Regions from separate parts of the Homo sapiens genome. Here regions 1 and 2 are each linked to region 3. Evidence: fine-mapped expression QTL. A gene starts in region 3. Each other region holds a variant in brackets. All regions are shown on one strand. Distances are from middle to middle.

What was found. PIP is the estimated chance that this variant, and not a neighbour inherited with it, causes the effect. A credible set is the group of variants that fine-mapping cannot tell apart.
Region 1: its variant is the best candidate, but not a certain one, in a credible set for the expression of POLM in whole blood (Lepik 2017, PIP 0.63).
Region 2: its variant is the best candidate, but not a certain one, in a credible set for the expression of POLM in Th17 cells (Schmiedel 2018, PIP 0.57).

Annotation. Positions count from the first base shown.
Region 1 is chr7:44,034,797-44,037,594 of GRCh38, forward strand. It overlaps the pseudogene RASA4CP. Among named protein-coding and RNA genes, the nearest start is that of LINC00957, 2.9 kb to the right of the region's middle. RefSeq lists an enhancer at 1,588-2,087. The variant C/T (reference allele first, on the strand shown) is at 1,282.
Region 2 is chr7:44,002,113-44,004,910 of GRCh38, forward strand. SPDYE1 (speedy/RINGO cell cycle regulator family member E1) reads left to right here. Exons shown (of 9, transcript NM_001378423.2): 4 at 478-705; 5 at 1,741-1,799. It also overlaps the pseudogene POLR2J4. Among named protein-coding and RNA genes, the nearest start is that of SPDYE1, 5.6 kb to the left of the region's middle. The variant G/A (reference allele first, on the strand shown) is at 1,093.
Region 3 is chr7:44,081,512-44,084,181 of GRCh38, forward strand. It overlaps POLM (DNA polymerase mu), which reads right to left and starts at 1,019. Exons shown (of 11, transcript NM_013284.4): 1 at 740-1,019. The coding sequence starts at 927. RefSeq lists an enhancer at 793-1,293 and a silencer at 1,005-1,584.

The sequences.
Region 1 (2,798 bases), 47 kb before region 3:
ACAGCTCCACTTGTCCCCACGGAAGGCACCGGGATGGTAGGAGCCCAGGAGGCTGGTGTGGGCTGGATTTCAGCCGCCGCTGGCCCCTTGGCCACGCTCGTAGGTATTCCAGAACCCGCCAAATATATTTGGTGGCCCTGATATCACTACTTTTCCCAGTGGCTCTGGACCCTGACACAAAAGGGAACTCCTAGAGGGAAGGGCACAGAGGGACAGGTCTGTGACTTCCTCCCCACAGGCCAGGACGGTCAAGCCTGGAAGAAACCAACCCCCCTCCAGCTGCAGGCTTCCTACTTGTCCCACATGTCCCTGCCCTAGATACACATCTGGGTCACCCTCCTACAAGGTCCCTGCTCGAATGCCACCCATCAGAGGTCCTCCCTGACCACTCTTTAATTAATTTACTAATTAATTAATTTATTTATTTTGAGATGGAGTCTTGCTCTGTCACCAGGCTGGAGTGCAGTGGCTCGATCTCAGCTCACTGCAACCTCCACCTCTCAGGTTCAAGTGATTCTCCTGCCTCAGCCCCCCAAGTAGCTGGGACTACAGGCACACGCCACCACGCCCAGCTAATTTTTGTATTCTCCCTGACCACTCTTAATAGGACAGACCGCTCCCTGCTATACCCCACTCTCTTCCCTCCCTTGCTCCCTTAGTCCCTTCTGGTTCCCTTCAAGTCACTATCACAATTTGCTTTTTTTTTTTTTTTTAAGAGACAGGGTCTCACTCTGTAGCCCAGGCTGGAGTGCAGTGGTGTGATCATAGTTCACTGCAGCCTCCAACTCCTGGGTTCAGGCTATCTTCCTGCCTCAGCCTCCCAAGTAGCTGGAATCACAGGTGCATGCCATCATGGCTGGCTACTTTTTTTTTTGTAGAGATGGGGTCTTGCTACATTGGCCAGGCTGTTCTCAAACTCCTGGCCTCCAGTGATCCTCCCACCTCAGCCTCCCAAAGTACTGGGACTACAGGCATGAGCCGACATTTGAAACATGTATTTATTGGCCCATCTTCTCCCTGGGATATCAGCTCCATGAGGGCAGGACTCTGCCTCATCTGTCACTGTATCCCCTCACCTAGAATCATGCCTGGAACCTAGGAGGTGCTCAGTAAGTATTTTTTAAATAAATGAATGAATGAGTTAATGAAGGAACAGATGAGAAGGTTACTTGAGAACATGCACCCAGAGCCACACAGAGCATAATGTTTGATTATTAGGCATTGATACAGACACAGAACCACACAGGTGCCAGCTCAGACTTTCTTTTTTAGAGAAAGGGT[C/T]TTGCTCTGTTGCCCCGGCTAGAATGCTGGGATTATCCGCGTGAACCAGCGTGCCTGGCCCCCATCTCAGTTATCTGGAAATAGTTTCCAACAAACGGGTGCAACGTGCAAATTTCACATCACGGGGATGCACCTGTCTGTGCACTGGCCCACACACAGACCTACACATGGATGCCCAGGGAAAGACATGGGCCATGGCCTCCTGGGGGCTCAGGCCCCTGGACAACACACACACACCTGTCCCTGACACCTCCCAGATTAGACACACCCTGCGGTGCCTGATGTAGCTGGTAGCGGGGCGAGAGGCTCAATCAACTCTTTTCTCATCCAGTCCACTCAGGCCCCTCCCACAGCACCCAGGCCACTCCCACAGAGCTCAGGCCACTCCCATAGCACCCAGGCCATTCCCACAGCACCCAGGGCATTCCCATAGCATCCAGGGCACTCCCACAGCACCCAGGCCACTCCCATAGAGCTCAGGCCACTCCCACAGGGCTCATGCCACTCCCACAGTACCCAGGCCACTCCCACAGCACCCAAGCCACTCCCACAGTGTTCAGGCCACTCCCACAGCACCCGCTCCCCTCCCCGCACCTTGCACTGCAGGTAGGCAGTCTGGGGCCTGCCGGCGTCGTCCGTGTAGATGACCTGCATGACGTGCGAGCTGCCAAAGTTCTTTTCCTCAACCTTTTCTGCTGCCCGGATGTTGGCTAACTTGATGAGGGCGCTTTTCTGGGGCAGTCAGGGAGGAGGAGGCTCAGGGACCTAGCCAGGGGCATTCCATTCCCCATCTCTGGGCCTCAGTCTCCCCTTCTGCAGCACCAGGGGTAGGCGTGGGAGACCCAGAGTGACCTCAGCCAGGGCAGAGCACAGACTGATGGTGACCAAGTGCCCAGCAACTGGGAGAGGAGGACCTGGCCTCTCTGGGGGGCACTCCCAGAAGGCCTCGGAGGTGTGAGCTTTGGGGTAGTGTCTGGACAGCCAGCATTCCCTGGGCTACAAAGTCAATCCAGCCGTGGCCAAGGCTTTGTGACTTTGCATTTATTAATTTTCCAACTTGCTTTTGTAGTCCCAAGCTCTAACAGTCATATCCTGACCGGGCGCAGTGGCTCACACATGTAATCCCAGCATTTTGGGAGGCCGAGGAAGGCGGATCACCTGAGGTTGGGAGTTCGAGACCAGCCTGACAAACATGGAGAAACTCCGTGTCTACTAAAAATACAAAATTAGCCGGGCATGGTGGTGCATGCCTGTAATCCCAGCTACTTGGGAGGCTGAGGCAGGAGAATCGCTTGAACCCGGGAGGCGGAGGTTGCGGTGAGCCAAGATCGCACCATTGCACTCTGGCCGGGGCAACAAAAGTGAAACTCCATCTCAAAAAAAAAAAAAAAAATGGGACCAGAATTAAATAATGCCCATGTAGTCAAATCTTTCAACCCTGGCAAGGAAGATGTATAATAATCATCTGAGTGCTTTGGGAGGCTGGGGCAGGAGGATTGCCTGAGGCCAGGAGTTTG
Region 2 (2,798 bases), 79 kb before region 3:
GCCTGGCCAACATGGTGAAACCCTGTCTCTTCTAGAAGCACAAAAATGAGCTGGGCGTTCTGGTGGGCACCTGTAATCCCAGCTACTTGGGAGGCTTAGGCAGGAGAATCACTGGAACCCAGGAGGCAGAGGTTGCAGTGAGCCAAGATCGCACCACTACACTCCAGCCTAGGCCACAAAGCAAGACTGTTTCTCAACAACAACAACAAAAAAAAAAAAAAAAAAAAAGGGACTCAGAGAGCCAGGGACCAGGGAAGGATATGAGGAAGTGTTCTGAGGACAGAGAAACGGGAGAATGGGGAGGAGAAGGAGCGGCACATGGAGCTCAGCAGAGGAGACAGACAGAAGGAAAGATGGCTTGGAGAAGCCAGCAGTCTGCGAGGCTGGGGAGGATGGAGAGTGGTTTGGGGTTTTGGGTCGGGCTCTAGTGTGATCAACTGCAGAAGCATTACACCGTGGCCTGGTTTCTTTACTCAGCCCCTGGGGTAGATCCCAGCCCCCCGCATAGGTCCTTTTGCTGGAAAAGGAAGATGGAGTGGTGGGACAAATCTGAGGAGTCGGAGGAGGAGCCACGGAAGGTGCTCGCCCCTGAGCCTGAGGAGATCTGGGTGGCGGAGATGCTGTGTGGCCTCAAGATGAAGCTGAAGCGACGGCGAGTGTCGCTCGTGCTCCCTGAGCACCACGAGGCCTTCAACAGGCTGCTTGGTAGGAGGACACCCCAGAGAGCACCTCCAATCCTGTTCTTTCCAAAAACAGGAAACTTCCAATAACCACACTTTTCCAATGGGAAAAATAGGCCCCAGTGGGTGAGCTCTCCATGTGGGAGGAATGTGAAGTGATCACTCATGAGGGACACTTAGGAGATGATAAAGGATTAGGTCAACTTGATAAAGGTCAGCGCTTGGGATAAGAAAGCTTGGTTTCGGGCCAGGCGCAGTGGCTCCCGCCTGAGATCCCAGCACGTTGGGAGGCTGAGGCAAGAGGATTGCTTGAACTCAGGACTTTGAGGCTGCAGTGAGCTATGACTACACCACTGCACTCCAGCCTGGGTGACAGAGCAAAACCCTGTCTCAAAAGAAAAACCAAGGCTGG[G/A]CACAGTAGCTCATGCATGTAATCCCAGCTACTCGGGAGGCTGAGACAGGAGAATCGCTTAAACCCGGGAGGCAGAGGTTGCAGTGAGCCAAGATCAGGCCACTGCATTCCAGCCTGGCCCACAGAGCAAGACTCTGTCTCAAAATAAATTAATAAATAAATAAAAATAAAAATCAAATAAAGAAAAACAAAATCAATAAACAAAGAAAGTGGTTTCAGCTGTGCCCTCTGAAACTTAATGTCTCTTACTGACTTTTCTAAACCTAAGTGTCTCCATCCATAGTGGGGGATACCAAGGCCATGGTCACACCCTGATGTGTGACTGTCTCATGAGGAAATGATGGGAATTCCTTTATGACTCTGCAGTGGTCCCTCCGTGTCTGCTGGAGGGGGTCCTGGCTGATTCCCAGCTCTACATCCTGTAGATTCTCACACCCAGGGCCTCCTTCGGCCTCTTCTCAGGGGAGTCTCAGAGCAGGAGCCTCTCTCCCTTGCCCAGTGAAAGTCATTCTCCCCTCTCCCATCCACCTCACCCGCGGCCACAATCCTGAGACTTCCCCCCGGGAGGCACACTTCTCCTCGCTGCCCTGCTGCTCCCACGGAAACCCTGTCCTGCTTCTCACACTGACATCTGCTCTCTAATCACAGAGGATCCTGTCATTAAAAGATTCCTGGCCTGGGACAAAGATCTGAGGGTGTCGGACAAGGTAAGGTTGTTCTCCATGTAACTGTTCCTGTTCCAACGCATGGCTGGGGGGAGGGCGCAGCTTCCAAACCCACAGTTCTCCCTCCACCACCTCCCACCAGATGCTCCTACAGTCTTTTTTTTTTTTTTTTTTTTGTGTGTGTGAGACAGAGTCTTGCTCTGTTGCCCAGGCTGGAGGGCAGTGTCTCGATCTTCACTCACTGCAGCCGATGCCTCCTGGGTTCAAGCGATTCTCCTGCCTCAGCCTCCAAGCAGCTGGGATTACAGACATGAACCACCACGCCTGGCTAATTTTTGTGTTTTTAGTAGAAACGGGGTTTTGCCATGTTGGCCAGGTTGGTCCTGAACACCTGACCTCAGGCAATCCACCCACCTTGGCCTCCCAAAGTGCTGAGATTATAGACGTCAGCCACTGTGCCCGACCAGCTCCCATGGTCTTGAGTCTTGGCACCCACAAATTTTTTTTTTGTGAGACAGAATCTAGCTCTGCTCCCCAGGATGGAGTGCAGTGGCATGATCATAGCTCATTGCAGCCTCTAATTCCTGGGCTCAAGCAATCTTCTTTCCTCAGCCTCCTGAGGAGCTGGGACTAGGCACATGCCACCATGCTCAACTAATTTTTGAAATGTTTGTGGAAACAGGGTCTCACTATGTTGCCCAGGTTGTTCTCGAACTGTTGGGCTCACATGATCCTCCTGTCTCCACCTCTCAAAAAGTACTGGGATCACAGGCTTGAGCCGCCACTCCCGGCTATTCTTGGTCTTTTTATGATTTGTCAGCATCTCCCTCAGGATTCTGCTGGTCTCTTGCAGAGTGAATGAGTGGCCCCTGCCTCTCCTATGGGTCCTTTGGGATCTGAGCTCTGGGCCACAGTCTGGCCGCAGCCCTGAAGCTCCTGGCCCCTCTACTCTCAGCTCTTCGGGACAGTTCTCTGCCTGGCACACAAAAGACCCTCCTGACACCAGCCAACCTAGACACACCCCCTCCAAAGATCCCATCG
Region 3 (2,670 bases):
TTTGCTCTCTCAACCTCCAAACTAGGGGGCACCCCCAGCTCCCTTACTCTGGGTGTTGTCTCTGTAGCCGCCATTTTTTCTTCTCTTGGTTCCCTTCCTACAAGAGCTTCTCAGTCGTGTTATTTACTCAGGCCTGAGGACAGAGGAGCCTGCGGGCTCCGGGCCTCTTGAGAAGTCAGTCTCGCTCACAGGTGGGACATAGCCCAGGCAGAAGGGCTGTTAGCAAATACGACTTTTTTTTTTTTTTTTTTTGAGACAGAGTCTCACTCTGTCGCCCAGGCTGGAGTGCAGTGGCGCGATCTCGGCTCACTGCAAGCTCCGCCTCCCAGGTTCATGCCATTCTCCTGCCTCAGCCTCCCGAGTAGCTGGGACTACAGGTGCCCGCCACCACCTCCGGTTAATTTTTTGTATTTTTAGTAGAGACGGGGTTTCACCGTGTTAGCCAGGATGGTCTCGATCTCCTGACCTCGTGATCTGCCCGCCTCGGCCTCCCAAAGTGCTGGGATTACAGGCGTGAGCCACCGCGCCCGGCCTACTGCTTATTAATTACCCCTGACCTCTGGTTTTGATTCTCGCAGTGATCCTTTAAAACACGCCTCGCCCTAATTAATAGCACCCTTTACAGAAGAGGAGATGGAGGCTCAGGGAAAGGTCACAAGACCACGAAGTGCCACTGCAAACTTAGAATCCAAAACCAGAAGTGCCATGGAAGCCCTCGCCGCGCCGCGCCGCCCCGCACCTGCAGGCGTCAAGGACGCGGAAGCCTTTGGAGCGCGCCAGGCCTGTGAGGAAGGCCCGGCGGCTGCGACCCATGCGAGGCTCGACCAGGTAGATGGCGACTCCCGGGAAGCGCGTCGAGGGCGGCGTGGAGGAAGCGGCATCGCCGCTAGGGGACCCGACCCGCGCTCGCCGCCGTTTGGGGAGCATTGGGACGACAGCCTCCAGCAGCGCGGAGCGAACGCAGAGGGAAACTCCGAGCGAGACGGAAGGAAGCCCCAGTGAGGCTGACGGAAGCGGGTGGGCGGGCGGGCGGCCGCCGGCTGGAAGAGGACGTGGCCCCGCCCTATGCAAATGAGGCCTCTCCGTGGGGCTCGCTACTTGGGCCAGTCGGAGCGCTGGGGAGGGTCCGGGCTCCTACAGGATTGGGTGTCCCGGCCGCTCCGGAAGACCCGCCTCCATGCAAATAACGGCAGAGGACCCGCCTTTTATTTAAATTAATGTCTCGGAAAGCGCTGTTCGGCCCCATTGGCCTCCGGGAGGAGAGGCTGGGCTGGAGCGGGGCGGGGAGGGTGTTGGAGGGGGTGGAGGAGGCGGGGTCAAGGGGGCGTCCCCGGCTAGGGAGGGTGAACTGGGACCTAGGCCCGGGCGGAGCGGGGTGGGCTGTGTCCTTGGCGCCGGGGCTGGGTCTAGGGTTGAGCCGGCGGCTCGGGGCGGACGCGTGCGGGCTGTGCCCGATCCCTCTGCGCTCGGGACTGTCACACGGAAGCCGGCGGGCGCAGGACCGACACGCGGGTTTCCAATGCGCTGGTGGGGCGGTCGCTTCAAACACGCGGGAAGATTTTTCAGTCGAATGGCATTAGGACAACTGGCAGGCCATTTGGAAAAATAGAAGTTGGTGCCCTTCCTCATTCCTTAACACCAAAATAAATTCCAGATGGGTCAAACATTTCCATCTAAAAAGGAAACCAACAACGTACTGGAAAAAAGTCGGTGAATGTTTTTATGATCTAAATATCACAATAAACTTGGAAACACTAAAGGAAAAGAATGATAAACTGGACTACAGACAAATTTTAAATCTGATTAAAAATTAGAGTCAGAAGATAAACTGGGATAAAGTGTGAGATATTTTGGAATTAAGATTATCTCATGATAATCTTATCAAATTGTCCATAGATAAAAAGACAATAATTTAATAGAAAAATTAGCAAAAAAACTCACGTAGATGATTCTTAGAAGAAATCCTGGTCAATAAATTTATGACCAGAGTGCCCAACCTGTCCAGTCGTTACAGAATACCTAAATGAGAATATCTTCAGTTGTGGGTTTATCAAACATTCAAAAAAATTGACCACACATGTTGAAGGTGCGAGGTAATTGGCAATCCATAGGAAGGACTGTGGAAGCCAATGTGGCAACCACATCCAACAAAATGAAAACAAAATAATACACATTGATCCAGCAATTCCTTTCCCAAGATTGGGATTGCATTGAATCTATAGATCAAGCTGGGGAAATCTGATGTCTTGATAATATCAAGTCTTCTGTCTATCTTATTTAGATATACTCCATTTGTAACCTCTGTTACGGTAGTGTGGCACTGCTCAGCCTAACTGATGGGACACCAGATCAGATGCAACCCCCTTCCACATGCCTCTCCTCATCACTGCCCCATCGTCCTCAGTCTTGAGCCCCAGACTCCTTGAGCACCTATCCTTTTTCTTTGGCTCCTCTCTGACATCTTTAGTGGGCTGGCTCTTCCCCATCTCTGCACTCAGAGCACAGGGCTGAGGGGAGTGGGGGAGATGGCTCAGCCCAGGCATCCTCTTGACCTCCTACACCATCTCCCAGCCTCCTAATTCATCTACCTCTTCAGGGCTGTAGAGCTTCCTGGGCCTCAGGACCCACATACAGAAGCCAGGAGGCCTGCGTATGGTCCCTCTCTCCCCA